Linked DNA regions of Homo sapiens: region 2 is linked to region 1. Evidence: fine-mapped expression QTL. Tissue or cell type: whole blood. Region 1 holds a variant in brackets; the other region holds the start of a gene. All regions are shown on one strand. Distances are between the middles of the regions.

Region 1 (16,185 bases):
ATGCCTACTTTATAACATCTCCACCTGTCTTGAGTTATAAAAACACTTTGCTGTGAATGTAATATATGGTTGTGTATTTTCCATAAAATATTTCGCTTTCAAGAAGGGGAGAGAGTAGAAAAAAAAATCCTTAGTTTTTGACTTACCTTTTAATTTTAGGATTTTATTTGAAATACATAGTAAAATGGTTTTCCTTTGTGTTTTCTTTCATTGCTGTACTCTTTCAGAGATTACCTAATTTTTAATTGTTTACATCTTTTTTCTTTTTAAAAACGTTTAACTCTTTAATATAATGGTTTTTTTTTTGGCCTGCTTGCCTTCCTCCTCTCCTTTCCTTTCCTCTCCTCTCCTCTCCTCTCCTCTCCTCTCCTCTCCTCTCCTCTCCTCTCCTGTGCTCTCCTCTTGTTCTCCCCTCCCCTCCCCTCTCCCTTCCTTTCTTTCTATGACAGAGTTTCACTCTGTTGCCCAGGCTGGAGTGCAATGGCACGATCTTGGCTCACTGTAACCTCCGCCTCCCGGGTTCAAGCAATTCTCCTGCCTCAGCTTCATGAGTAGCTGGGATTACAGGCGCCTTTCGCCATGGCCAGCTAATTTTTGTATTTTTAGTAGAGACGGGGTTTCACCATGTTGGCCTGGCTGGTCGCGAACTCCTGACCTCAGGTGACCCACCTGCCTTGGCCTCCCAAAGTGCTGGGATTACAGGCATGAGCCACCACACCCGGTCTCTTTTTCTTTTCTTTTCTTTTAAATATAGTGTTTTTAAAGCTATTTTAGTTCATGGATCTCATGGAGAAACTGGAAACTGTGGACTTTCCACCTAGAAAAGTACACATATTGAATTTTACATTTTTAGGGGTTTCACAGTAGACAGCCAGAAACCTGTCCGTGAATGTTTTAGATTCTTTTGGATAAAGCATCTCTAAACTGTCTAGAAATTCTTTTTTGTTCATAATATAATATTCTATAGATATTGAGACAACTCTTTACATACAAGACAGAATAAATTTAGATATATATATGTAGAAAAGACATAAGATTTACAGTTTCTAACTTACTTTTCAAACACTTGGCATAGGGATGAAAACTTGGCACTTAGCTCCTTGTTTAAATCTGAATCTGCAACTGAGCAAGGTATTCATATGATTTATGTCTCAGAGTTAGTGCCAGTCATAGAAAAAAAATTTCAATAGGACAAAGAAAGCGTCAGTATCATCTCTTGCCTTTCAGTTGGTCAGTGCTGCTTTTATGCTGTTACCTAGTACCCATAACCACCGTCTTGTAATACGTGATCACTTTCTAGGCTCTAAAGTTGGCTGTCCCCATCAAATTCTCTTGTGGAATTGCTCAGCAAGCAGTTTGAGATTGGATAGAGCTCATTCAGATTTTGGTGTTCATGACTAATAATTTCGACCGGAAACAGCTTGTGCTTATAGAGTTGTGTTATTATCTAAGTTGAAATAGATGCCACCGCATACCTACCAGCATAATCTAGCAACAGGAAACATGCTCATTTTGGTAAGAGGTACTCTCTCTTCTAACATAAAGACTTTTAAATCTCAGCAAACTTATTTCTTTCTTGTGGCAATCTTGTTTTTAAGAAAGTACATGGATTTAAGAAAGTAAATATTAATATGATCACTTACACTATATTCAAGAGTAGTTTCATGTAGTACTTATTCTAATAAAGGTGTTTTTAAAAAGGAAATAGTAAATAGCATCTATACAGCATTTACTGTGTTCTTGGGTTGGAAGACTCAATATTGTTAATTGATCTGTATATCTTTTCAGTACAACTGATAGTATACAATAGTAGAAAAATGTATTTCTTCTATCTGAATGCCTCTGGTGAACTTCTCTGGATCCTTTAAGACTTCCTGAATATTTTATACATTCTCTAGTTATAGCATATACTGCATATATTAAAATGATTTACTCATTTTTCCACTAGATTGTGAGCTTATGTAGTATTTGTTATATGGTTCCATGTTTCTCCTCCCTTGTTTTGGTACTTTCAAATAATAGTAGACACTGGAGAAATGTTTACTGCGTTAAAAACAAAAACAAAAGTGGTTAACTTTGAGATAATGTGGCTATAATGTGTTTATGAAATAATAATTCCATGTAGAAATTACCCTCTTTTACCAGATAAATTGTACCAAAGACAGAGAGTTCTGCTTCTTGAATGGCAGCAAACAATAGGAAAATGGGACTAAATTCCATTTACAGTAGCATTAAAAACCATAACACTTAGGAATACATTTAACAGAAGTATAAAACCTGTATGTTGAAAATTAGGTAATATTGATGGAGAGAAATTAAAGATCTAAATAGACAAATTTACCATGTTCTTGGGTTGGAAGATTCAATATCGTTAACATGTTAGTTTTCTCTAACTTGATCTGTGTATAAATTCAGTACTATTCAAATACAAATTTCAGAAGGTTTTTTTTTTTTTTTAATAGAAATTGAGGCTGGGCGTGGTGGCTCACGCCTGTAATCCCAGAACTTTGGGAGGCCGAGGCAGGTGGATTACGAGGTCAGGAGTTTGAGACCAGCCTGACCAACAAGGTGAAACCCCATCTCTCTAAAAGTACAAAAATTAGCCGGGCATGGTGGCACATGCCTGTAATTCCAGCTACTCAGGAGGCTGAGGCAGGAGAATTGCTTGAACCCTGGAGGTGGAGATTGCAGTGAGCCGAGGTCATGCCACTGCATTCCAGCCTGGGCAACAGAGTGAGACTCTATCTCCAAAAAAAAAAAAAAAAAAAAAGAAATTGATAAGCTGATTTAAAAATTTGTGGTAATGTAAACCACCGAGATTAGCCAAAGCAGTTTTATAAAAGGTGAACAAAATTGGAGAAATTATACTACCTGATTTTAAGATGAACTATGATGTGACAGTAATCAAGACAGTGTGGTATTGGTGAAAGGATAGATATATAGATCAGTGGAACTAAAGAGAGAACCCAGAAGTGGAGCCACACAAGTATGGTCAATTGATTTTTGACAAAGGTGCCAAGGCAATTTCAGTGAAGAAAAGGAAAGACTTTGAGCAAATGGGGTTGGAACAACTGGATAGCCATGTGAAAAAAATGAACCTTAATCCCTACTTCACACCATACAAAAAAATTAATTTTAATGGATACGACATAAATCTAAAAACTAAAACTATAGAACTTCTGGAAGAAAATGTAGGACAAAAGTGACTTTGGGGTAGGCAGTGATTCCTTAGATAAGACACCAAAAACATAAACCATACAGAAAAAAAATGGTAAATTGGGTTTTATAAAAATCAAGAAATTTTGCTCTTTGGAAGATATCATTAAGAAAAGGAAATGAAAAAGAAAGTCACAGACTAGGTGAAACTATATATATACATATATACATGAAAAAGGACTTTTGACCAGAATATATAACAGACTCCTAAAACGAATAATAAGACAACAAAATAAAACATGGCCAAATGATTTGAATAGACCTTTCACAAAAGATATCTGAGTAATTGTAGATATGTGAAAAGATGCTCAGTAGCTTTAGTCACCAGGGAAATGCAAAGTAAAACCACAATGAGATACCACCAGATATCCATTAGAATGGCTGAAAGGAAAAAGGCTGACAATACCAATTGGGGATATGGAGCAACTAGAACTTTGTTGCCGGTGGGAATGTAAAATGTTACAAACTGCAAAACTGGCATTCTCTTAAAAAGTTGAACATAAACTTAACATAAAATTCAGCCATTCTACTCCTACATATTTTCCCAATATAAATAAAAATACGTGTTCACACAAAGATTTGTATATTATTGTTCATAGCAGTTTTATTCGTAATAGCCAAAATTGTAAGCAATCCACATATTCATTAATAAGAGAATGGATAAACAAAATATAATCTATCCATACAATAAAATATTACTTAGGAATACAAAACAACTATTATACACATAGATAAATTGCAAAATAATTATGCTGAGTGAAAGAAGCCAGATTCAAAAAAGAGTATGTATTCGTCTGTTCTCATGCTACTATAAGGACATACCTGACAGTGGGTAATTTTTTTTTTTTTCCTGAGATGGAGTCTTGTTCTGTCACCCAGGCTGGAGTACAGTGGTGTGATCTTGGCTCACTGCAACCTCCGCCTCTTGGGTTCAAGCAATTCTCCTGTCTCAGCCTCCCGAGTAGCTGGGATTACAGGTGCTCACCACCACGCTGGCTAGTTTTTGTATTTTTAATAGAGACGGGGTTTCACCATGTTGGCCAGGCTGGTCTTGAACTATTGACCTCGTGGGTAATTTATAAAGGAAAGAGGTTTAATTACTCATAGTTCCGCAGGGCTGGGGAGGCCTCAGGAAACTTACAGAGGGGAAGCATGGCAAGCATGTCCTTCTTCACATGGTGGCAGCAAGAAGTGCTGAGTGTAGGCAGGGAAAACCCCTTATAAAACCATCAGATCTCGTGAGAACTCACTATCACGAGAACAGCATGGAGGTAACTACCCCCATGATTCAATTACCTCCCACTGGGTCCCTTCCACGACATGTGGGGATTATGGGAACTACAGTTCAAGATAACATTTGGGTGGGAACACAGCTAAACCATATCAGAATTCATATTGCGTGATTCCAGTCATATAAAATTCTAGAAGATGCAAACTAATCTACCATAGCAGAAAGCAGAACAACAGTTGTCTGGGCCTGGGAGTGAAGGCAGGGGTGGACTACAAGGTGCATGAGAAAACTTTTATAGGTGGTGGAAGTAGTTTGTATCTTGATTCTGGTAGCAGTTTCGTGGGTGTATATGTTTTCACAATTCAGATACACTTTAAATGAATGAGTTACACCTCAGTTAAGTTGGTAAAAACAAAGGGAGGATAGCAGTGATGGGAGAAGGTTTCTGAATTTTGGTTGAGGAAACAACCTGGGGCACACAGCATTGGAGAACAAAATTTCCCCCTACCTACACTAAGGGGTACAATGTTTAGTCTTGTAGTGACTAGTCATATGTCATCTAGTGTGATGTTTGTCAAAGCGATTTTTTACTCTTTTAATTAGAAGCCTCTTCAAGAGTAAGTAAATCATTTTTAATTTAGCCTAAATAAGAATGTTTAATATTGGTTTCCTCCTCTGAAAGCTTTTGAGTGATAAAGGCTTCAAGTGAATGGTGGCGATGTAGTGTTCAGAATATATTCTGAAGAGACAATTTCTTCTTCCTGAGAGTGATGGAAATCTATGCCTCATCTTTAAATCACTTTAGCTGACGCACATATTATTTAAGTATCTGTGGGCATATTTGAAATTAATACCTACTGCTTTTGCCAGGGGGAAGATAGGAATCTTGTTCATGTATATCTTTACTGGAATTTTGAGTGATGTCTTATACTACTCATCTACTATAAGGTGATTATGTTACTAATTCTTAGTGCCCTTTCATAGATGTGAAACATCTCAGTATAGGGTTTCACGTATTTTGCAGGGAGGTTAATGGAAAGATAAGGCCTTTGGAGCCAGATAGTTCTGGTTTCAAGTTCCAGTTCTGTAACTAATCGTGCTTTTGGCAAATTATATCCTTTCTCTAAGCCTGTTTCCTCACCTGGAAAAGAGAATAACCCTTCCTACACTTATTGTAAGGATTAAATGAAATAGCGTTAAGGTACTGGTGTAAACCTGGCATATAGTAAGTACTTAGTAAATATTATTTCCATTCTGTTTTTTTTTTTTTTTTTTTTTTTTTTTTTTGAGACAGGGTCTGGCTGTGTCGCCCAGGCTGGAGTGCAGTGGTGCAGTCTCAGTTCACTACAACCTCTGCCTCCTGGGCTCAAGCAATCTTCTCCCCTCAGCCTCCTACATAGCTGGGACTATAGGCACACGCCACCGTGCGTAACTAATTTTTGTGTTTTTTTTTGTGGAGACAGGGTTCTGCCATGTTGCCCAGGCTGGTCTTGAATTTCTAGGCTCCTGCCTTGGCCTCCCAAAGTGCTAGGATTACAGGTGTGAGCCACTGCACCCAGCCTATTTCCCTTACTCTTGATAAGGAATGCTGGTGTATTGTATCTGGGGTCCTCCCTGTATCTGGGGTCCTCCCAGTGCTGGAAGCATTATGTTTCGTATTCCAGTCTTTTCCACTTTGCTGATATACATTCTGAGCCTTATTTTTCAAGTCCTATTTTCAAATTTATTCATTTTGATCTGAAACATATGGGTTCTGAGCAGTATGATTTCTGGTTTGTTCACAAAATGTTAACTCTGATCTATATTGCTGAACATATCTCAGAGAGTGAATACTTGTTCTAAAAGCAGTGCTGCTGTGCCGATTGTATTTTATATACATCAGACACTTTAATCCCCTTACTTAAGGGGTCAGTTAGAAGTAAATATTTGTGCCCATAGGTTATTAAGGAGCTGCCAAGCAACCATGAAATTTTCCCATGGTACTAGGGTCTGACTCATTTTAATCTCACCTTTCTCTGTGGTCAAGTTGTACTGAGCTCAGATTAATCCCTTGTGGCCATTGCTGCTGCATAGCTGGCAGCTTTTATGCT[C/G]TAGGCCCATAGTCCATGGTCTGTCCTGACCGGTCTCTTGACATATGCACTTGATGTCAGTTCTAAGGCTGGTTTTCCCAGCCTTTAATCTTTGATCCATAGTTGGGGCAGGTTGGGGCTAGGGATGGGGATATATTCCTACAGGATACTTTGGAGTGCTACCTTCCATAGTAATCCTGCTTTGCTTTACAATTTTCCACTCACTCACTCTTGTGAGTGAGAAATGTGACCTAAGCTACAACCTGAAAGCAATGAAAGAGAAAACTATAGTAGCATAAAATATGTTCAGCTGTCTTTGAAAGAGTGTCTACTATCCATAGCTCCAGCAATACTGTTACTTTTAATCACAAAAACCACAATTACTTTTGCACCAACCTAACAGTGTTTGTTTAAATTTAGCTTTTCTATTTATCAGTTATATATTAACATTATTTGGAGAGTCATTTCCTATTTCTCAAAGAGAATCACTTTAATCTCTGATTCATTTGGTATTAGCCCCCTTATTTATAATTTATCATATTTCTTGATTTTTCAGAATTAGGCCTCATGTATTGACTTCTCAGTAAGGAAGAGGAGGATTTACCTCTCTTTGACTAGCACCCTACATTGCTGTATGCAAGCATACTTCCCATCCTGCCATCCTCCAATATAGTTATATCATAATCATTAACTACATTATGACAATTACATAAATATAATTCACAGCTAAACTATGTAGGATTTGATAGTTACTTTTCCTTGCCTGCACAGTATTTTGTTTTTCCTGGAATTGATAATTCTATTTCTTGTTCATTTAATTAGTTATCTGTGTTCTCAACACTAATTCATTAATTCCGAACCATTCTCAGTTGTATAAATATCCTGTTCATATCATTCAGAAACATTGAGTAATTTATCATTTTCTTATCTTGAATAAATATTTCCTGGAGTCTTCTGATCTGTTCCAATCTTGACTGATTGTTTTCTGCTGCATAGCTGTTGTTTAGGGGCGGTATCATCTTGTGGATTTTCTTTGCCTATCTAATACGTTGGATCCTCTCTTCCATGGATCTCATGTCTTCCTTTTCATGGTTTATGACTTCATTTGGTGGAGTACATCTTCAAGTAACTTTCTGAAAAAATGTGTTTGGGAGACAAAATATTTGAGACCTTCAGTATTTGCAGATGTTTTAATTTCCCATATACTAAATTGACTGAGTGTAGAATATGCTATGGTTTAAGTACCCCCTCCAAAACTCATGTTGAAATTTAATTGCCATTGTGATAGTATTAGAGGTGGTACTTTTAAGAGGTGATTAGGTTATGAGGGTGGAGTTTGCTTGCCTTTCTGCTTTCTGCTATGGGATGATGCAAAAAGAAGGCCCTCACCAAATGGCCAAGCAGATGCTGGTACTATGTCTCAGCCTTCAGAACCATGAAGCAAATAAATCTCTTTTCTTTATAAATTACCCAGTTTGTGGTATTCTTTATAATATCAGGAAATGGACTAAGACAGAATACTAGCTTGGAAACATTTTCCTCAGAATTTTGAAAGAATTGTTTCATTGTCTTAAGTCTTTCAGTGTTGTGCTTAAGAAGTTTTAAATAAAATGTATTTTATTTGTGTGTGTGTGTATTTGCCTCTGGAAATGCTCAGGACATTTTCTTTGCTTTCATTGTTATAACATTTTATTGTGGTAGTCTTTGATTTAGGTCTTTTTTCATCTGTTGGTGGATTCCATAAATCTCTCTTTCTCTCTTTTTGGTCCTACTTTCTGGGAGATTTCCCCAGTTTTATCTTCAAACTATATTTGAGTCTTTAATTTTAGCTACTTATTTTTTACTTTCTGAGAGTTCCTTTTCTAAATATTCCTTATCTATAGCATCCTGTGCTTGTTTCCTGGATGCAGTGTCTTCTGTTATTTCTTTGAGCTTGGACAAATTAATAATAGAAGTTTTCTTCTCTATGTGCTCTAACTTTCCAAGCTTCTGTATTATTTAGATCCCTGTCATATTAGATGCTGTCTTAAAATGTTTGGCAATCTTTGGCTATCTTCTTAGGCTTAACAGTGGAGTGTTAATAAGCAGATTGGGCTGGACATTGTGGCTCACTCCTATAATCCAAGCACTTTGGGAGGCTGAGGCAGGAGGATCACTTGAACCCAGGAGTTCGAGACCAACCTGGGCAACACACGAGATCCTGTCTCTATAAAAAAAAAAAAAAATTAGCTTTGCAGGTGGTGCATGCTGTGGTCCCAGCTACTTGGGAGGCTGATGTAGGAGGATTGCTTGGTCCAGAGACGTTGAGAGGCTGCAGTGAGCTGTGATTGTGATTGTGCCACTGCAAAGGCAACGGAATGAGACCCTGTCTCCAAAAAACCAAAAAAAAAAATGCAGATCAGAGTGAATGTAGGTTTTATTAAGCCTCTAAATCTACTGTTTACCTCTGGATCCAGCTGCCAATTTGTAGGAAATAGAAATACTGAGGACACAACCCTGCTTGCCCACTGTCTGGAAACAGAAATAGATGCGGTGCTTTTGCGGGGGGGCACGGTGGGAGTAAGACCGGCCTTTCGGATTGTGTGGGAGCTGAGTGAGGCCTGTGACTGCTGCCTTTCCCTCACTTCGCTGACAACCTACATGACTCAGCAGAGGCAGCCATTATCCTCCCAGGTACACAACTCCATTGACCTGGGAACCTCACCCACATCCTCCACAGCAGCTGCAGCAAGACCTGCCCAAGGAGAGTCTGAGCTCAGACATGCCTAGCCCTTCCCCCACCTGCTAGTCCTTCTCTACCCGCCCTAGTAACTGAAGACAAAGGGCATATACTCTTGGGAGTTCTAGGGCCCTGCCCACTGCCAGTTCCTCTCCATACTACCACAGCTGATGCCCTCTGGAAAGAGCCACCTCCTGGCAGGAGGCCAACCAGCACAAAAATAGAACATTAAACCACCAAAGCCAAGAATCCTCACAGAATCCATTTCACCCCCCTGCCACCTCTACCGGAACAGGTGCTGGTATCCATGGCTGAGAGACCCATAGACAGTTCATATCACAGGACTCGTGCAGACAACCCCCAGTACCAGCTTGGAGCCTGGTAGACTTGCTGGGTGGCTAGACCCAGAAAAGAGATAACAATCACTGCAGCTCGGCTCTCAGGAAGCCACATCCATAGGAAAAAGGGGAGAGTGCTACATCAAGGGAACACCCTGTGAGACAAAAGAATCTGAACAACAGCCTTCAGCCCTAAACCTTCCCTCTGACAGAGCCTACCCAAATGGGAAGCAACTAGAAAACCAACTCTGGTAATATGACAAAACAGGGCTCTTTAACACCCCCCCAAAATCACACTAGGTCAGCAGCAATGGATCCAAACCAAGAAGAAATTTCTGATTTACCCCAGAAAGCATTCAGGAGGTTAGTTATTAAGCTGATCAGGGAGGCACCAGAGAAAGGTGAAGCCCAATGCAAGGAAATCCAAAAAATGATACAAGAAGTGAAGGGAGAAATGTTCAAGGAAATAGATAACCATAAAAAAAAAATCAAAACTTCAGGAAATATTGGTCACACTTATAGAAATGCAAAATGCTCTGGAAAATCTCAGCAATAGAATTGAACAAGTAGAAGAAAGAAATTCAGAGTTGGAAGTCAAGGTCTACAAATTAACCCAATCCAACAAAGACAAAGAAAAAAGAATAAGAAAATATGCATAAAGCCTCCAAGAAGTCTGGGATTATGTTAAACAACCAAACCTAAGAATATTTGGTGTTCCTGAGGAGTAAGAGAAATCTAAAAATTTGGAAAACATATTTGGGGGAATAATTGAGGAAAACTTCCCCAGCCTTGCTAGAGACTTAGACATCCAAATACAAGAAGCACAAAGAACACCTGGGAAATTCATCGCAAAAATATCATCACCTAGGCACATTGTCATCAGGTTATCTAAAGTTAAGACGAAGGAAAGAATCTTAAGAGCTACGAGACAAAAGCACTAGGTAACCTTTAAAGGAAAACCTATCAGACTAACAGCAGATTTCTCAGCAGAAACCCTACAAGCTAGAAGGGATTGGGGCCCTGTCTTCAGCCTCCTCAAACAAAAACAATTATCAGCCAAGAATTTTGTATCCAGTGAAACTAAGCATCATGTATGTGGGAAAGATAGTCTTTTTCAGACAAACAAATGCTGAGAGAATTTGCTACTACCAAGCCACCACTACAAGAACTGCTAAAAGGAGCTCTAAATCTTGAAACAAATCCTGGAAACACATCAAAGCAGAACCTCTTTAAAAGCATAAATCTCACAGGACCTATAAAACAAAAATACAATTTAAAAAGCAAAAACAAAAAACCACAGTACACAGGCAACAAATAGCATGATGAATGGAATGGTACATTGCATCTCAGTACTAACATTGAATATAAATAGCCTAAATGATCCACTTAAAAGATACAGAACTGGCCAGGTGCAGTGGCTCACGCCTGTAATCCCAGCATTTGGGAGGCCGAGGCGGGTGGATCACGAGGTCAAGAGATCGAGACCATTGTGGCCAACTTGGTGAAACCCCATCTGTACTAAAAATATAAAAATTAGCTGTGCGTGGTGGTGGGTGCCTGTAATCCCAGCTACTTAGGAGGCTGAGGCAGGAGAATCGCTTGTACCTGGGAGGTGGAGGTTGCCGTGAGCCAAGATTGCACCACTGCACTCCAGCCTGGTGACAGAGCGAAACTCCATCTCAAAAAAAAGAAGAAAAAAAGATATACAGAACCACAGAATGGATAAGAACTCACAAACCAACTATCTGCTGACTTCAAGAGACTCACTTAACACATAAGGACTCGCACAAACTTAAAGTAAAGCGGGGGAAAAAGGCATTTCATGCAAATAGGCACCAAAAGTGAGCAGGGGTAGCTATTCTTATGTTAGACAAAATGAACTTTAAAGCAACAGCAGTTAAAAAAGACAAAGAGGGACATTATATAGTGATAAAAGGCCTTGTCCTACAGGAAAAGATCACAGTCCTAAATATATATGCACCTAACACTGGAGCTCCCAGTTTTATAAAACAATTACTAACAGACCTAATAAATGAGATAGAAAGCAACACAATAATAGTGGGAGACTTCAGTACTCCACTGACATCACTAGACAGGTCATCAAGAAAGAAAGTCAACAAAGAACGGATTTAAACTATACCTTGGAACAAATGGACTTAATAGATATATACAGAACATTTCATCCAACAATCGGAGACACTTTCCATTCAGCAGTGCATGGAATTTTCTCCAAGATAGACCATATGATAGGCCACAAAACGAGCCATAATAAATTCAAGAAAATTGAAATTATATCAAGCACTCTCTCAGACCACAGTGGAATAAAACTGTAAATCAACTCCAAAAGGGAAACCTACAAAACCATGCAAATACATGAAAATTAACCTGCTTTTGGGTCAAAAATGAAATCAAGATGGAAATTTAAAAGTTCTTTGAACTGAATGACAGTAATAACACAACCTATCAAAACCTCTGGGATACGGCAAAGGCGGTGCTAAGAGGAAAGTTCATAGCCCTAAATGCCTAACAGAGCACAACAGACATTCTAAGGCCACACCTCAAGGAACTGGAGAAAGAAGAACAAACCAAACCCAAACCCAAACCCAGCAGAAGAAAGGAAATAACCAAGATCAGAGCAGAACTAAATAAAATTGAAACAACAACAAAATGCAAAAGATAAATGAAACAAAAAGCTGATTCTTTGAAAAGATAAATTAAACTGATAGACCATTAGGAAGATTAACCAAGAAAAGGAGAGAGAAAATCCAAATAACCTCAATAAGAAACGAAATGGGAGATATTACAACTGACAACACGGAAATACAAAAGATTATTCAAGGCTACTATGAACACCTTTACCCACATAAACTAGAAAACCTAGAAGAGATGGATAAAGTCCTAGAAAAATACAACCCTCCTAGCTTAAATCAGGAAGAATTAGATACCCTGAACAGACCAATAACAAGCAGCGAGATTAAAATGGTAATTTAAAAATTAACAAAAAAAAGTCCAGGACCAGACAGATTCACAGCAGAATTCTACCAGACATTCAAAGAAGAATTGGTACCAATCCTTTTGACACTATTCCACAACATACAGAAAGAGGGAACTCTCCCTAATTCATTCTATGAAGCCAGCATTACCCAGATGTGGAAAAAGCATTCGACAAAATCCAGCATCCCTTTATGATTAAAACTCTCAGCAAAATCAGCATACAAGGGACAATACCTCAATGTAATGAAAGCCATCTGTGACAAACCCACAGCCAACATAATACTGAGTAGGGAAAAGTTGAAAGCATTCCCTCTGAGAACTGGAACAAGACAAGGATGCCCACTCTCATCACTTCTCTTCAACATAGTATAGGAAATCCTAGCCAGAGCAATCAGACAAGAGAAAGAAATACAGGGTATCCAAATCGGTAAAGAAGAAGTCAAACTGTCACTGTTTGCTGACGATATGATTGTTTACCTCGAAAACCCTGAAGACTCCTCCAGAAAGCTCCCAGAACTGATAAAAGAATTCAGCTAAGTTTCTGGATACAAGATTAACATACACAAATCAGTAGCTCTTCTACACACCAAAAACAACCAAGCAGAGAATCAAATCAAGAACTCAACCCCTTCTACAATAGCTGCAAAAAAATTTAAATACTCTGGAGTATACCTAACCAAGGAGGCTAAAGACCTCTACAAGGAAAACTACAAAACACTGCTGAAAGAAATCACAGATGACACGAACAAATGGAAATACATCCCATGCTCATGGAAGGGTAGAATCAATATTGTGAAAATGACCATACTGCCAAAAGCAGTCTACAGATTTAATGCAATCTCCATCAAAATACCACCATCATTCTTCACAGAATTAGAAAAAACAATTCTAAAATTCTTATGAAACCAAAAAATTGCCCACATAGCCAAAGCAAGGCTAAATGAAAAGAACAAATCTGGAGGTATCGCACTACCTGATTTCAAACTATACCATAAGGCCATAGTCACCAAAACAGCATGGTACTGGTATAAAAACAGGCACATAGACCAATGGAACAGAATAGAGAACCCAGAAATAAACCCAAATACTTAACAGCCAACTGATCTTCGACAAAGCACACAAAAACAAAGTGGGGAAGGGATACCCTTTTCAACAAATGGTGCTGGGATAATTGGCTAGCCACATGTAGGAGAGTGAAACTGGATCCTCATTTCTCACCTTATACAAAAATCAACTCAAGATGGATTAAGGACTTAAATCTAAGACCTGAAACCATAAAAATTCTAGAAGATAACATTGGAAAAACCCTTCTAGACATTGGCTTAGGTAAGGATTTCATGACCAAGAACCCAAAAGCAAATGCAATAAAAACAAAGATAAATAGCTGGGACTTAAACTAAAGAGTTTTTGCATGGCAAAAAGAACAGTCAGCAGACTAAACAGACAACCCACAGAGTGGGAGAAAATCTTCACAATGTATACATCTGACAAAGGACTAATATCCAGAATCTACAGTGAACTCATTAAGATAAAAACAAACAGTCCCATCAAAAAGTGGGCTAAGGACATGAATAGACAGTTTTCAAAAGAAGATATACAAATGGCCAACAAACATACGAAAAAATGCTCAACATCACTAATGATCAGGGAAATGCAAATCAAAACCACAGTGTGATACCACCTTACTCCTGCAAGAATGGCCATAATGAAAAAATCAAAAAACAGTAGGTGTTGGCATGGCTGCGGTGATCAGGGAGCACTTCTACACTGCTGGTGGGAATGTAAACTAGTACAACCACTATGAAAAACAGTGTGGAGATTCCTTAAAGAACTAAAAGTAGGATTACCATTTGATCTGGCAATCCCACTACTGAGTATCTACCCAGAGGAAAAGAAGTCATTATATGAAAAAGATACTTGCACACACATTTATAGCAGCATAATTCACAATTGCAAAATCGTGGAACCAACCCAAATGTCTATCAATCAATGAGTGGATGAAGAAACTGTGATATATATGTACGGTGGAATACTGCTCAGCCATAAAAAGGAATGAATTAATAGCATTCACAGCAACCTGGATGAGACTGTTATACTAAATGAAGTAACTCAGGAATAGAAAACCAAACATCATATGTTCTCACTGATATGTGGGAGCTAAGCTATGAGGACGCAAGGGCATAAGAATGACACAGTGGACTTAGGGGACTTGGGGAGAAGGATGGGAGAGGGGTGAGGAATAAACGATTACAAATAGGGTGCAGTGTGTACTGCTCGGGTGATGGCTGCACCAAAATCTCACAAATCACCACTAAAGAACTTACTCATGTAACCAAACACCACCTGTACCCCAGTAACCTATGGGGAAAAAGAAAAGAAAAGAAACATTGAGGACAGAGGAACATACGGAATTGCACCATGAGTAATCAGCAAAATTCAGGGTGCAGAACACTCTACTGGCCCAGTCTGCTTTTATCAATAGATAAATTGTAAGAAAAAGAAAGTGATGGGAAGGAATTTTTAGACTAAAAGAAACTATAGAAACTTATTAAATTTTAAAACGGGTAAACCAAACTGTACATTCAAAGTGATTAAGATGGTAAATTTTACATTGTATATCTTACCCAATTTAAAAAAAAACATGACAGGGGCACGACTAAACTCTATGTCTATGAGGCATGTAGAGGGACTTCTGAGGTGTCTGGCAAAGTTTTATTTCTTGAGGATGATAATTTCAAGATTGTTAGCCTTATAATAAATTGCTAAGGTATATATTTGTTTTATGTGGTTTTCTGTATCTGTGTTTTAAAGTAATTTTTAAAAGCAGATTGGAAGCTCCATGTGCGTAGTTGGGATTGCGGGTAGTAGTCTTCACTGTGGGATGGTGTATGTGGACAGACTTTTTAACTGCTGGAACCCCAATGTCAGTTTCTTTAGCTCATCAGTTCTCAAATGCTTTGGTCGCAGGACCATTTTACATGCTTAAAAAATGACTGAGGACCACAGAGAACTTTTGTTTATGTGGGTTACATTTGTCAATATTTACTAATAGAAATTAAAATTGAATTTCAAAATATTTATTCATCAAAAATAACAAGAGTAAACCCGTTACATGCTAACATAGATAATCTATTTTTAATGAAAAATGACTCTATTTTTTAAAGTAACATATTGGAAGAGTGACATTACTTTACATTTTTGTGGATCATTTTAATGTCCAGCTTAATAAAAGACAGGTGGATCCACATCTGTTTCTGCCTTCAATATCTTACAGTATCACACATGGTGCAGCATTTGAAAACTCCACTGTGAACTTTTGAGAGAATTAGAGTAAAACAGGCAAATGACATTGTAGTATTATTTTGCAAATAGATTTGACCTTGCTCAGGCTCTGAGAGGAGGGAATCTTTGGAGTTCCTGGACCATACTTTGAGAACCATTGTTATAGCTGTTTTTCTCTTGACTGGTCAGATTCTCCAGAGAAGACTCTCCTGCCTGGAAAGCTGACTGTCAACATTCCTGACCATCAGTCTTCTAACTAGCAGCATTCTGGAACCCAAAGAGGGAAGAAAGCTGTAAACTTTCATTTTATTCCTCAGTTGTTAGCATGGTAGTCTG
Region 2 (16,185 bases), 56 kb before region 1:
TTCCCACTCATAGGTTATATAGGGACCCATAAATATGTACTCCTCAACTCAGTAAGTTAAGCAAATTATGAGTATTACTTGCCAGAGGGGACTGATTCATATTCCTTATAGGATTGGTGTCTGTTTCACTTCTTAAAAATTCGTATCTCTCTCCTCATACATTATCACCTCCTCTTCCATTTCTCTTCATATTATTATATGTTGGGTGCTGGTTCTGGGACTCACTACTGGTTACTTGGAACAAAACATTTACAGATTTCATGGGGCATTGAGCTCAGCTAATAATATTTGAAAAAGAGAAAAAGGCAGTAGTCTGTTAAGGAGACTAAATGGTGTACATGTTGCATTTAAAACAGAGCTTATTTTGAGCAAAGATCCCCTAGGGGGATGCTGCTTGTATGGTGTATCTGATCTGCTGGGGAGCACATGCCCAGCCAAGCCTCCTTTAATAAGGCCGCCCACACTGAGCCCCTGTGGCAATGGTGCTTGGCTGCGGGTGCACCTTCCGCCTTTGAGCACCCCACTCACTCACATGGCAACCTGCCTCCCCCGAGAACTGCTCTCCACAGGCGCTAATCTATCCCCTCATTAACAACCAATCCAATTCTCTGTCTTGAACAAAGGGAGTCAGAGTTTAATCCCTTGAACTGAAAAGTCCTATGGGGCTCAGCCATTTTCAACTGTGTGATTAGTAAATAAAGTGGGTCTGCAGGAAGGAGAAATTTAAAACAGAGGACAGCAGAGAAGGGGGCTCTTACGGCCTCAGAGAGCATTAAGGGGGCAGAGGGATGTGCTGCTGTGGTCCCTGGGGCTCCCAATGAGGCCCATCTCTAGTTCCACGGGGTCCCAGCTTGCTTTTTGTTGATGTCATATTCTGCATCATAAACACATATTTGAATTGCTTTCGAGGGCTTCTCTTTCTTGCAGCCAAAAAAGAATCTCAACTACAATTACAACTATCTAAAGTCAGTTTCCAGATTTGGATTTATGTGTATATGGTACATTTTCAGGATTCCTGGGAAGATGAGGGAGAGACAATATCATGTAGTGGTTGGGGAGAAGGCTCTGTAGCGAGACTGCTTGAGTAGAAATTCTACAAGTTCTGCCACTTACTAGTTGTGTGATCTTGGACAATCTAACATCTCTGTGCTTTGGCTTCCTTGTTTGCAAACACAAGGGTAGCAATATTTTTCTACATCATAGTTTGCTGTGAGAATTAAACACAAGTAGACAGTGTACTTGGCACATAGCATTTAAGTTATCCAATGAGCATTTGCTGTTATCTTGGTAAGGGCTTACTTTTGTTTTTTGTTGTTGTTGTTGTTGTTGTTGTTGTTTTTTGAGACAGAGTTTCACTGTTGCTGCCCAGGCTGGAGTGCAATGGTGCAATCTTGGCTCACCGCAACCTCAGCCTCCCGGGTTCAAACGATTCTCCTGCCTCAGCCTCCCGAGTAGTTGGGATTACAGGCATGTGAAACCCGGCTAATTTTGTATTTTTAGTAGAGACAGGGTTTCTCCATGTTGGTGAGGCTGGTCTCGAACTCTGGACCTCAAGTGATCCACCCGCTCTGGCCTCCCAAAGTGCTGGGATTACAGGCGTGAGCCACCGTGTCTGGCCAGTAAGGGCTTACTTTTACACACCCACCCACCCACCTACACACTCTCACAAACACATGTATACACATACATATAATAATGCATACATACCTATAATGTATACCTATAATAAAATATACACATGTGTATATATGTATACATATATAGATGTCTACACACACACATGCCCCCCTGCCTATTTGGCCTGAGCCTGAAGCTCTATGTTCCTATAGCACTTCATTCACATTTACAGCCTTTATCACACTGTATCGTAATCTGCTTATTTGTCTGTTTCTCTCAACACATGTGAGCTCCACAATTCAGGTAATTGCCTTCTTTGCCCTCTTATCCCCAGAGCTTTACATCTGATACTGGGGATGTTCCTGAGCTCGCAGTAGATTCATATTGTTGGACAGGTAGATGCTAGATGATATTTCCCTGTTAGATTGTCATCCCTTTAGCTTAACACTTGGCTCTCGGCTCAATTTACATGTCCCTAGGTGACATAACACTTTATGCTGTTACATTATTTACCACCTAGAGGGAATGAATTTCCAAGTCCTCCCTGAAAGTAAGCTTTGGCAAGAAGATAGGAGAGGACCTCGAGGGGTCTGGATGCTGCAGGCCATGGGCAAGTGACGAGGATGAGATTCACAATCTTCCTGTTTCTGCTCTGGAATAGGTCTCATAGTAACAACCTCTCCCCAACTCAACTCACACAATCAGCAGTGGCTGTGTGATATTACTTAGCAGCACTTTGCAGCTTGCCTGTAGTAGAGAAGAAAGTAAACAGTCACATTGTATCTGCTGGGACTGCCATAAAAAAATACCACAGACTGGGTGGTTTCGACACCAGAAATTAATTTTCTCACAGTTCTGGAGCCTGAAAGTCTGAGATCAAGGTGCAATCGTGTTGGTTTCTGGTGAGGCTTCTCTTCCGGGCTTGCAGATAGCTGCCTTCTCACTGTGTCCTCACATGGCCTTGTACAGGGAGGCAACAGAGAGAGAGAGAGACAGAGAGAGAGAGAGAGAGAGAGAGAGAGAGAGAGAGAGAGAGAGAGAGATTCCCAGCACAAGCTCTCTGGTGTCCTATTGGATTAGAGCCCTACCCTTAGAACCTCATTTAATCTTAATTATCTCCCTAAGGGCACTATCTCCAAATACAGCCACATTGGAGGTTAGGACTTGAACATATGAATATGGCAGGAGAGGGGGGAGCGGGGAGGGACACGATTCAGTCAATAACATACATTAATCCCAAGTGGAGGCTTATTTTAATTAAGTTTTGTGTATGGCCCAAGTTTTCTACTCTGCATAACTGTTTAATCAAAATCCAAACTGAGAGATGGGTCTCTGTAGCCTGTAGATGAGAAACAAAAAGCAGTGATCCTTAAAATGAGATCCCTACAGGCACACGGGTGCCTTCTGGAAATGCAGAAGCCATTACCTGCAAGTCAGTTTCAAATGTTAAACCATACAGTATCGATTCTGGCTTTCCCAGGTGACTTGCAAGAGTGAGAACGTCTTTCAGAGCCCAAGTGCAGTGAAGGCTGCCAGGCCCGTGCCTCTGATACAGATCTAGGAGTCTGAGTAGCCGCAGGGCCTGGATGGGAAAGGCTCACTTAAGTCTGGGAAATGCAGCAGGTGAGTTGAGAGCCACGTGAGACTATGCAGCCAGAAGGATAGAGGGGGGAAGGCCCTGAAACAAAGAGATGGAAATGGAATAGTGAGAGGCTGGGGTCAGAGGATTGAGGCCAGTCTTAAAACTAATTTCAGGAACACTGAGTTCTCCTCTTCTATGTGGCTTGGCAGGCGTGCTGCATTTGGGGCCTGATTTTAAGTATCCAGAGCTGGCTTTATACCATTATAAAATTTTTGGCTGGGAAAAAAAAAAGAGTTTCATAAAATTTCAGGCATTATGCTCTCCCATGGTACTTCCTGGTGAAATGTCCAACCTGTGATCTCATCTAGGCGTAATACTAACTCTACTTTGACTAACAATCTCTTTCATTATTAAGGGTGAATTTTTAATTCAGAATTTTATTCTTCATGTATAAATTATGTTATCACCTAGTTGGCTTTGTAACATAATGAATGGATAGTAGCTGTAGTTATCATTCTTTGCAATCTTTCTTTGTTATTATTCATTTACTTTATAGAACATTATGTCCTGAAAGAAGAAGCCTTCTCTGACCCCAGGCCTCCATATTGGATCAATGCCCCTAGTTATGATCCCTCCTAGCAGCCTGTACTTCTCCTTTATAGTTCTTCCCACCATTGGAATTAAATAGTGATGGCATGATTAATTGTTTAATGTCTGTCTTCCTTGCCAGATTATTTTCCCAACGAAAACAGGCACCAGGTCTATCTTAATCATAGCTGTATCGACACTGGTTCTTGCTTATAGCAATAAATTCCTTTTAAGTGAGTTATTTCATTCACTCATTGATTCATTTGTTAACTCATTTATTTAGCATTCACAAGCCCTAGGAACTGTGCTACAAACAGGGAAACAAAAACCAATGTGATCATTTCTGGATTCAAAGAGTTGGCAATTAAAAACAGAAAGTTTTTAACCATTTTATTTTATTTTTTATGTTTTTTTAAAAAAGATGAGGTCTCACCATGTTGCCCAGGCTGGTCTCAAATGCCTGGGCTCAAGTGATCCTGCCGCCTCCATCTCCCAAAATGCTGGGATTACAGGCGTGAGCCACTACACCTGGCACTTAACCATTTTAGGTGAAAGTTCCCCTTGAGAACCCAGTGAAGGAAGTGGACCCTCTTTCAAGAAGCTACTCATCTAAAAAGCACATGAGATTTTGTATTCAGCTTGGTAGGTTCACAGATCCTTGAGAATCTATTCACTATCTTCCTAAAATTATGTGGATTCTGACGTCACAGTAACTCCATGAAATACAGACTTGAAGACACATACAAGGTAAGAGGACGGGTAAAGAAGGACATCAGCATGTCCTCCTTTGGGTCAGGAGAAGCTTCCATTGCAAGAGATGTTTGAGCCACATTTTGAATGATAAATCAGATGTTACCAGGGAAAGCAGTGGGAGCATTCGAGGTTGAGAAGACAGTGTTTGGAGAAGCATGGATGTGTAGAAGTTGGAATGGTATTTAGGGAGTAGAATCAGCAGGACTTTGTGACTGATTGGATGTGGGATGTTGAGAGAGGGAAGGAATAAACTCCATGCTTCTGCCTTAGGCAACTGAGTGCCAGGTTTAGGTCTCGGTGGGCAGCCTCAGAGGCATAAACGCCAATTCAACAAAATAACAAGCTCATGGGCCACATTTTTTGTTCCCAATCAAAATGAAATAAACTTTTGTAAGTGATAAAAAGTACATTCCTTACAATTTAGATTACCCAGCAGATTGGATACAAGAATGCCAATGAGGAAATCAACATGCTTTTTAATCATAAAAGTTATATCTGTGCAGCCACACTAAGGCAGCTTTCTAATCTTTCTTCTTGAAAGAAGAGCATGGTCTGTATGGAGAAGTTAGCTGGCCACATGCAATTTGGGTCGTGCAGATTATCATCACTGCCTGAAGAATCCTGGGAGACTGCTTGCTGGCAGGAAGGGTTATGCTTCAATTATGGATCTGATAAGCTGGATGTGCTTAGTATGGTGCATTTGTAAAGAGGATTCTCAATGAATATTCAATCATAATTCATAAATTTCTTATAAATAAATTTTCCTGCATATTTGGAATCTTGGGCATTATAAATCTTGACGTATGAAAAAAATATTCATGAAAGGTACAACCCCCTTATAATTAGTTGCAGATTCAAATTTCGTATAACAGGGCAGTAGGCTTTAAATTACATCTTTTTCAATAACAGTTCCATTGGGATATAATTTGCATACGATACAATTCACACGCTTAAAGTGTACAATGCTTTCAATGAGTTTTTATTTACTTTAAAAAGTTTATGTTTTCTAACTGTTAGCAATTAAATGGTATTCCTTTTGTAATCAGAAAAGTAATACTAGGTATGCATATTTAAAAATTTGTATAACAGTCCTTATACATAAGGAATTTTCTCCTTCGATTGTGGGAGCCAAGAGAAAATATATCCTATGTGGATTTAAGTTAAAGTATAACATATGGTTAAAATATTACCACAAAAGTGGCATGTTTAGTGAGAAGGAAAGACTAAAGGTGGGTCATTCTAATGGCTTCCTTCAATGTCCTGCTGGGTAGGGGAGACCCAGTTTAATTTACAGATCCTCACTTCACTATCAGGGGCTTACAGAGAAACTTCCCCTGCTGTAACCTTCTCAGCTAATGGGTGATGTGCTGTGATAGATGTATTCTCACCCGGGATAGTGGTGATATTGTATTAAGAGGGAAAAAAAATAAATAATAACCTTGAGGTTTAACCTGAGGTATGTGTTGAATAAAAAGCCCAGCTTATCCATTTACAGTATATATACAGTGAGAAAAGTTGGAAGGTTTTCAGAATTCTGAATGTCACCTCATATCATGTGTTAGTGATCTTCATGATAGATGGCATAGATCTAAAAACCATTTTTTTTTGCTAAAATAACAATGTGTAGAAAAAAAAATAATCATTTTCCTAGCAAATGGAGAGAACTGTTCAAAAGATAAACCTCTCTGGTTTGACCTAAGGTGCAGGAATACAGTTGGCATTTAGGCTGACCCTTATATTGGTAATTTATGTAAAACAGTTTTTTCTTTCCAAGATTGCATAGTGTATAGTAGGAAAGTGAATAGACAAATTTGATCTGACCCATTTTTACATCACTGGGAAACTGTTTGTTTGTTTTTTAGAACACTGTTATTTTGAGACAGGGTCCTGCTGTGTCATGCAGGCTGGACTGCAGTGGTGCAATCATGGCTCACTGCAGCCTTGACCTCCTGGACTTACATGATCCTCCCAACTCAGCCTCCCGAGTAGCTGGGACCACAGGTAGGCCACCATGTCCAGCTAATTTTTTTTTGTATTTTCTGTAGAGATGGGGGTCGGGGGGGTGGGGGTCTTGCTGTGTTTCCTGGGTTGGTTTTGAACTTCTAGACTCAAGCAATCCTCCTGTCTCAGCCTCCCAAAGTGCTGGGATTACAGGCATGAGCCACCACGCCTGGCCTGCTAATAGTTCTTAAATGCAGCTCTTATCTTATTACTTCTGCAGTTAAAGGCCTGTTTAATGCTTGGCACCTGACTTTAAAGCTGACTATAATATAGCACCATCCCAAATTTCCTCAGGCTTGTTTCCTCATTGTTTCAAACATATATTGTTTCAAAGACACAATTTTTATGTGTGACTGTTTGCTTATATTGTTTAACTTCCTATTGTATTTGCTTTTAATAAAGTCTAATAGATGCTATGAAAACAGCCTTACAATCTCTTTTTCTTTTCATGAAGCTCACTGTCTACTACAATGCTTAGTGTGCCATTTAGGAGGACCTATGAGGAGGGAGTTTTGCTCAGGCTTCTCTGCTGCATAACCAGGAGGCTGATTTCTTACAGAAATTACCACTTGTAATTATATTTCCTTTGTTGCTTTCGCTGGCAGGAAACTCTAAGTTTATGAATCTCTTCTTTAATACTAAATAGATTCTTATAGCATGACTTTATTCGTATTTTTTCCACTGACCTAATTTATTGTTCTGGCCTTGTGGGAGAAGGGGCAGTGGTCCTCTTTGCCTTTTAAATTCAAATACTCATGTATTTTTGCAAACCATTTCAAATCTTTTTTTGGATCTAAATGGAATAGGAATAACAAATTTAAATTAATGCTCAACTTGCTTATTTATAGACTTTTTGCTCTTGTTTTCCTTTTTTCAAACCTCATCCAGCCCTCAAATCCAGCTTTTCCATGCACCCCTTCATTCTTCACTGATCTCCATTTTCTCGGAGCTCTTGTGTTAATATAATTTTGCATTTTACTAAGTATGATTTTGGATACCTCCTAGTGTTTCATGTGTATTAGTCCTGTAGTTCTGGGTTGTAGTTTTTTTAGTGGTAGGGACCATGGCTCATACTTTTCTGAATCTAGTAAAATAATATTGTATCAGAAATGCTTTCTGTTTACACTATAATTGTAACAAACATTGAATTTTTTAGCTTATTAACTCTCAGAGCACCCAGTACATCTTATTTAGAATTGCAGGAACCCATTTTTGTTTCTCTACAGCAGCCGAAGCTTGTTTCATAGATCTTGCAAGACTATTCAATCATTCAGTTAAAATTCCTTGACCTCCTGCTGGATGATGTTCGACAGGGCATTCATCTTCACGACACCCTTCGCGATGAATGGTAACATCTGGGCGGGTAGAGGTCCATTTCTACAGCAACCTGGGGGAGGAACAGGTAGGGTAGGTTTTGGTGTGGGTGCGATTCTTGGGGACTTCTTCAACAGGTAGGACATCAAGTCTGTAGCCAAAACAACACCTGGGCGAAGGGCAAATACCGGAGCCCCGACCGGCTCACGCCCAGTAATGCTTTCTCTGGGTTCTAACTACGTGATCAGGTCGTCTTGGTTTGCCAGGGAAAGCCCAGCGTCTTGACAACCCTGTCAGTTCCGAACAAACCGGGTCGATTGGTCACCGGGGCTCGAATCCCGACTGATATGACCCAGCGGGGACAGAGGATCCCCCTCAGTGCCACAAGTACATTCCCCACCGAGCAGCGCGCCTGCGCCAGTTGCTCTCATGCGTCAAGACTACAGGTCCCAGCAAGCATCGAGGCCCTCTCCAGGCCATTCTTCCGCCGGCGGGGAGCTCTCGTCGGCGTATTTGTTAGGTGTGGCGCGGAAGAGTCCGTGCGTGATGACGTCGACGCGGCGACGTCGAGCTCTTCCTCCTTTTCACGGCGTCTTGCATTACTATTGTGCGGCTGCAGGAGGTGTCGAGCGGCGTTATTTTTTTTTGCGGTTTGCCTTTTTTTTTCTTTTTTTTTTTTTTGGAACCGCGGTTGTTTAAAAGCCTGAGGGAACCTGGAGAGGGGCTCCCACTCCCTACCCTCTTTCCTCCGAGTTTGTGACTCCGAGATGGACAAAGTGTGTGCTGTTTTTGGAGGCTCCCGAGGCATTGGCAGAGCTGTGGCCCAGTTAATGGCCCGGAAAGGCTACCGACTGGCGGTCATTGCCAGAAACCTGGAAGGGGCCAAAGCCGCCGCCGGTGACCTCGGCGGTAGGTACCAAACTGGAGTTGTCCAGTTGTATGGCCGCGGTCCAGGCGCCTAAAGAAAATCTCCTTTGTAAAAAGAGCGGGTCTGGCCTTTAGGGCTCTAGGGTTACTCGATGTAGCCGCGTGCAGGCGCTCTCCCGTTCCAAGGGTAGAATGCGTCTCGTGCAGAAACCCGCGATCTCCCTATGCCTCGCAGAATGCCGGCCACGCAGCTTGCCGCCGAGGGCTGAACACTTGGGGTGTTCTTTGAGACCTCGTAGTCTTTTGAGGCCCCGCTATACGCACCCTCCGCCCTGCGGCTAGTGCTAACGCTGAGGAGCTTCCCTGTTGTGGGAGAGAGCCACGTAACAGTTTACTTTTAATGTAGGGAAAAGGGCGAGTTCTCGGCCCCCGGAGACAGGGCTGGGTCGAAAGGAGTTCAGGCAGGAAAGGTGGGAGTGCAGGTACCAACGGCTCCCTTCAGTTTTGCCCAAGGGCCGTGCCTTGGCCCTGCGCGAATGCACAAAGCAGTGTTTGATAGAGAAACCCTTTTGAGTACCAGCCAGTTTTGAGATATACCTGGTTTGCTTTAATGTTATTAAATTGTTTTGGTGAGTTTTGCAAATGGACAATTGAACTTTGTTCTGCCAAATTCTTTTTTATTGCATTTAAACTTCAGGGTTTTTTATTTCCGGCTTATTATGAATGGATTAGTCATTTTGTGAATATAACTCTTCATTGAGTTTAGGGAGAAATAGGACGTTAGATCCGAAGATGCTATTTGTTTAATCACCAGAATGGACAAAATTATACTTCATTTACTATCAGGGAGGCATGGGGAGAATAGAGGCCTAGGGGTGCGTCTTGTGGCTCTTACTGTTTTTGTGTATCTGGTTTTTTTTTTTTTTTTTTGAGAGGGCTTCCCATTATGTTGCCCGTGCTGGACCCCAACTCCTGATTTACTGGCTCTAGAGATCTTCTCGCCTCAGTCTCCCAAGGACCTGGGACTATAGACGCCAGGTGTGGCTGTTCATTTTTAAGTTAACATTATTGATCGGTTTGGTATCACCTGTTCAGTGCTGGTTGGGAGACTATTGGGCTCTCTAAAAGAAAAAAGATTCTGTAAGTTATAGGTCAGGGAGAGTGTCAGTGAATGCTTCTTGAAGCTCATATTCCTTACCATTCTAACAAAGGAGGGGAAGAGTGGTGACCCTTACTGTGTCACCCCAAGCCATCAGTGTTTGCTGGACTGGATTGAAGCCATTAGTTGGGCTTTCAAAGGTGGTTGTGGACACAAGTCTTCGGGTGAAAACCAAGAGTAAGAGAGACACAGGATGCTTTTGGGCCCTGCATTCCTTTGAATCGTGTTCCATGAGTGATTGGTTTTCATCTAGAAAGTATAATTCCCCGGGTCGCTTACTGTTTCCAAAGGCTTGATGGGGTAGTGTTGGTGTAAGCATATTTATCAAGGTCAGACAGAAAATAAAGAATTGTTTTAGCTTTTAAAAACAATCCTACATTTTAGAGTATTAAAATGGTAGATTACATAGGGAATGCTTTGTTTTCCTTTGAAGTGTAGTTTTTTTTTGGCATTTAACCATTTTTTAAAAGTGGTAAGTAACAGTTGCTTTTAGTAAAAAGTGTTTTTTTCCCCCCGTGGTTTGTAGTTTTAGCATTTTTATAGCTTCCTGTGTTGTCTCATCTCTCCTGATGGTCAGGTTTGAATAATAGTCGTTATAATATATGTGCCATAGTGCATCCGTAGCACTTAAAAAGAAGAAACCCAAGAGTTCCCGTTCAGGGCCAAAGAAACTAATTCAACAAAAACCTGACAGAATTAGACATAAATTTCAAAAAAGGAATATAAAACCCAGAAGACTGTCGAATTGGGTAGCATGAATTCAGTGTTAAAGCTATAAATATTAGATGAATCTTACAGAGCCTTTATAACTTGAAAAAGCCCTCCCCCCTTTGTTGATTAAAAAGAAAATTTTAAAATTAACTTTCTGTAGTAGTACTTTATTTCCTCTTTGTTCCCGCATCCCAGTTTCATTAGACCAACTCTATGAAAGCCAGGCCTCATGACATTACTTTTTTAATCTTTAGGTTCTAGATTAGCACAGGCCTGCCATCTTAGATAGATGCTTAACAAATGTGTATTGAGTAAATTTAAAATTTGAGTTATAAGTAATTCTTATTTAACTTTGTTGTGTAGGAGATCATTTGGCATTTAGCTGTGATGTTGCTAAAGAACATGATGTTCAAAATACATTTGAAGAGCTGGAGAAACATTTAGGTCGAGTAAATTTCTTGGTAAATGCAGCTGGTATTAACAGGTTGGTCACAGATTTAAATAAGTTTCTTATATATATATTTAAAACTTTTATTCCTAATATGTCTTTGATTGGTATAAGTTAATATGTTTATTTTGCTTCTAACTGGGAGAAAAAACTATTTTAAAACTTGTCAATCCATAAATTATTTTCCTTTATATTGAGATACAACATATAATAAATGTCCAGTTGAGTCGATTTTAACATTGTAATCATCACCCATATTGAGCCGTAGAATGTTTCCAGTGCTCCAGAAGGTAGTGTCTTCTCAATACTTCCTTGTTGGTAACTGTTTTCTGAGTTTTGTCACCACAGATAAGTTTTGCCAGTTTGTGAACTTAATACTAATAGAATCATGGAGTGGATATTATTTTTTAAAAGATGAATTTAGGAGAGAATATTTAGATAACATATTAATTTTCTTGCTAAACAAGGCTTAGTATGGCAGTTGCTCAGGCCATTCAAACTATTTTGGCTATATGTTACTACTTTTTAGGGGTTAAGAATATTTGCCACTCAAGCTGAGAAGGGGTAGCAACCTGTCTTCCAAGTGGATCCTTTCTGGTTTATCAATTGTTATTTTAATGTTTCTCAAGCCAAGTTCAAAATGGGACTCTAGGTATTCTAGCTATTCTAGCTCAGATAGGAAGCACTTCTTGCACTCTCAGTAAAAATGTTACATTAGTCTTGACCTTTTTGGTTTTTATCTTGTTATTATATGCTATTATATGCTGTTTCTTTTTGTAGGGATGGTCTTTTAGTAAGAACAAAAACTGAAGATATGGTATCTCAGCTTCATACTAACCTCTTGGGTTCCATGCTGACCTGTAAAGCTGCCATGAGGACTATGATTCAACAACAGGGAGGGTCTATTGTTAATGTAGGTGAGTCTTCACCTTTGTGAATTTATGATTATCCCATAATACCATACCATAAAAATATTTAATCCACGAATTTGTGATTTATTGTGAAACATGAATGAAATTTATATTATCTGTGGAAAAAAGGATTTAATTAATTGATTAATGAGTAAAATAAGAATCACACATTCACATCCCTATAGGAGTCAGGCAGGTGTTAAATGAGTGACACCACTGAGTACTAGAAAAATGACAGTACCAGCCATGTGATAAATGATATCCAGCTTCATTGTCCAGAGCCCATATGGAATGGTGGAGGCCACCACTTAGATTCAGTAGATTGTTGCCGTGCAAGAATGTGGTCCCAGTTTTGCCAGCAATTTTGATTTTTCAAGAGAAATTGGATCATTCTGATTTTTATGTGAATTTTTTTTTTTTTAAATAGAGACGAGGTCACACTATGTGGCCTAGGCTGGTCTTTAACTCATGGGCTCAAGTGATCCTCCCGAAGTGCTGGGATTATAGAGGTGAGCCACGTGCCCAGCCAGGAACCTGATTTTTAAAACATGGACAAGGAATTAAAGTAGACAGTGGTGGCTAAATAATATTGTCTACAGCAGTTTCATGGGTTACTGTTAAATCTTGTGTAGAGGTTTAAAGGAAGATAAAATTTCTCTGTTTTTAAGAATGGATGTAAGTAACCCCTAGTTTTCAGTTCATCTAACCCACAGGGCAGATAAGCTGTGGAGTATATGCCTGTAGAACTTAAAATGCAAAATGACTTGAAATTTTATTTCAGTTTGGTAATTTGGAAATAATAGTATACCATCTGCTTTTTATTTTCAAATGGTAATACCTTAAAAGGCCACAGAAGGGAGATGCTGCTCCATAAAAGTAAGTGACCCTGTTCTTTTAAATGTAGGAAATGGTTTTTCAAGCCAGAATTTAGAGTTTTTCTGTTTTGAAAGTGAGAAAAGGAAAGAATACTATGCTAATAAACTAAGGGGACATGAGAGCATTTTGGACATTTACTCTTAAAAATTTAAGGGATCCGTTTTCTTATGTAAGAGATTAGTCAATGAGTCAACCTTTGCCTTTTAACACAGCCAGATAAGGACTTTGGATACTTACAAGCAGGCAAACAGGCCTGTATCTGTCACCTGATAACCTGAGGTATATTTGTTTAACTCTAAAATCTTCTTTTTTTTAGGTGTATTTAAAAAACCCATTAGTCCTCCTTATGCATGCAAAACTTTTAGAATTGAGCTAAAAGTAAATAATAGATAGTAAATTGAGAATCTTACTACAGGAAGGACTACTTTAAACTGCCAGACACTTCATTGGTATTTCAGAAATTACCACTTTTTGACCTGATGAACAGTAGTGCGTGGCACGAATCAAAGCTGCTAAAGCAGCTTGTGTTTTTTTTTCTTTTAAAAGCCACTCATATTTAGCAGTTGGGGGTTGTATACTAACTTTAGTGACACTACTGTTAATAGGTTCTGATAACCCGCTACCATCGGACCAGCCCTGTTTTGGTATTTTTTTCGTGCATGTATTTTTCTTTTTTTGTGTCTCTGTATTTTTCTTTCTGATAAACACCCCTCTATCCATATGCATTTCTTCAGTCTGATGTCTGTTCTCTCTGTGTACTTCACAGTTCTCTTCCTTTGTTATTAATTGGCCTACAATATATAATGTAGATAAATATTCTAATACTGAACTTGTTGATTCTAATAGAGAAATGTTTGGAATGTTTTCTTTTTTTAAAATTACTTTAAAAAAATTTTGTGAGGTCCTTGATTAATTTTTGTATCATAAGTACAGGTCAGTGGTGCAGAAAATTACTTCCCCACTTCTGTTTTGCAAGAGTTTATTTGCATATAGTTGATATTTGAATTAAAAATTATTATTACATATTCATTAGATGTGGTCACTCAAGAATCTTCAGTAGGCAGTACAGTTTACAATATATCACTGAATGTAATGAAATTGCACTTTTACAAAAAGTGTATAATTGAAGCTTTGCCAATTTAGATTGACAGTACAAGCATGTCTCGCAGATATTGTAGCTTTGGTTCTGCTCCACCGGAATAAAGCGAATATGTCAAGAATGTAAGTCACACAAATTGAATTGCTGCAATCTCATGATAAAACAAATGGGTGAGGAGTTGCTTCTTATGTATGGATAAACAAAGTTGTTTCTCAAGATGGAATCTACTTGTGAAGATGTGAATACTGTTGAAATGACAAAGGATTTAGAATATCCTATAAACTTAGTTGATAAAGCAATAGCAGGGATTGAGAGGAGAGGCTCCAATTTTTAAAGTTCTACTTGGATAAAATGCTATCAAAGAGCATCACATGCTGCAGAGAAATCTTTCATGAAATGAAGAGTCAATCAATGTGGCAAATTTTGTCTTATCCAATTGTTTAGTTTCTCAGTGCATGTAAAAGTTATATTATGGTCTATTAAGTATGCAGTAGCATTATATCTAAAAAAAATGTAAATACTTTGTTGCTAAAAAAATACTTTATTGCTAAAAAATGCTAATGATCATCTGAGCTTCTGGCAAGTCATAATCTTTGCTGGCGGAGGGTCTTGCCTTGATGTTTATGGCTGCTGACTGATAATAGTGGCTGTGGCAATTTCTTTATTTTTTTTATTTTTTTATTTTATTATTGTTATACTTTAAGTTTTAGGGTACCGTGCACAATGTGCAGGTTAGTTACATATGTATACATGTGCCATGCTGGTGTGCTGCACCCACTAACTCGTCATCTAGCGTTAGGTATATCTCCCAATGCTATCCCTCCCCGCTTCCCCCACCCCACAACAGTCCCCAGAGCGTGATGTTCCCCTTCCTGTGTCCATGTGTTCTCATTGTTCAGTTCCCACCTATGAGTGAGAACATGCGGTGTTTGGTTTTTTGTCCTTGCGATAGTTTACTGAGAATGATTTCCAATTTCATTCATGTCCCTACAAAGGACATGAACTCATCATTTTTTATGGCTGCTTAGTATTCCATGGTGTATATGTGCCACATTTTCTTAATCCAGTCTGTCATTGTTGCACATTTGATTTGGTTCCAAGTCTTAGAATAAGACAAAATTTGCCACATTGATTGACTCTTCATTTCGTGAGAGATTTCTCTGCAGCATGTGATGCTGTTTGATAGCATTTTATGCAAGTAGATCTTTAAAAATTGGAGCCACTCCTCTCAATCCCTGCTATTGCTTTATCAACTAAGTTTATAGGATATTCTAAATCCTTTGTCATTTCTTTCAACAGTATTCACATCTTCACAAGGAAGAGATTCCATCTTGAGAAACAACTTTGTTTATCCATACATAAGAAGCAACTCCTCACCCATTTGTTTTATCATAAGATTGCAGCAATTCAGTCACATCTTCAGGCTCCACTTGTAATTCTGCTCCACTGAAGTCTTGAACCCCACAAAGTCATCCATGAGGGTTAAAATAACTTCTTTCAAACTTCTGTTAATGTTGGTATTTTGACCTGCCATGAATCACAAATGTTCTGAATGGCATATAGAACGGTGAATCCTTTCCAGAAGGCTTTTAATTTACTTTGCCCAGATTCCTAAGAGGAATTACTATTTATGACTGCTATAGACTTATAAAATGTTTCTTAAATAAGACTTGAAAGTCAGAATTATCCCTTGATCCATGAGCTGAAGAAAGGATATTGTGTTAACAGGCACGAAAACAACATTAATCTCCTTGTACATATCCATCAGAGCTCTTTGGTGACCAGATGCATTGTCAGTGAGCAGTAATATTTTGTTTGTGGCACCCCAACAGCAGTAAACATCAAGAATCACTGATCACAGATCATTATAACAGATGTAATAATAATGAAAAAATTTAAGATGGTATGAAAATTACCAAAATGTGACAAAGAGACACAGAGTGAGCACTGCTCACAGTGAGCCATGGTGTTGGAAAAGTGCTAATAGAATTGCTTGTTGCAAGGTTGCTACAAGCCTTCAATTTGTTAAAAAAAAAAAAAAAAAATGCAATATCTGCAAAGCACAATAAAGCAGAACAATAAAATGAGTTATGCATGTAATTCAATTTTAGTGAGATTTAGCTTCAAATGAACTAGTTTTTAGGGTGAAAACGAGAGCTTTCTGCCTTATGTCTGTGTTGTAGAATCATAAAATTAGTCAGCTTTTGTCTGACTTTTTCTGGCTTTAACCTCTACCTGCTGGAAGCCTTTATAAATACC

Evidence for each region. PIP is the estimated chance that this variant, and not a neighbour inherited with it, causes the effect.
Region 2: CBR4 starts here. The variant in region 1 is fine-mapped to the expression of CBR4 in whole blood (INTERVAL, PIP above 0.99).

What each region holds. Positions count from the first base shown.
Region 1 is chr4:168,946,147-168,962,331 of GRCh38, reverse strand. It overlaps a transcript of CBR4 not described here. Among named protein-coding and RNA genes, the nearest start is that of CBR4, 56 kb to the left of the region's middle. The variant C/G (reference allele first, on the strand shown) is at 6,538.
Region 2 is chr4:169,002,527-169,018,711 of GRCh38, reverse strand. It overlaps CBR4 (carbonyl reductase 4), which reads left to right and starts at 8,457. Exons shown (of 5, transcript NM_032783.5): 1 at 8,457-8,764; 2 at 10,956-11,076; 3 at 11,821-11,957. The coding sequence starts at 8,623. It overlaps CBR4-DT (CBR4 divergent transcript), which reads right to left and starts at 8,283. Exons shown (of 2, transcript NR_185919.1): 1 at 8,256-8,283; 2 at 7,652-7,928. It also overlaps the pseudogene RNY4P17. RefSeq lists enhancers at 501-1,001, 2,066-2,566, 8,078-8,407, 8,507-9,456.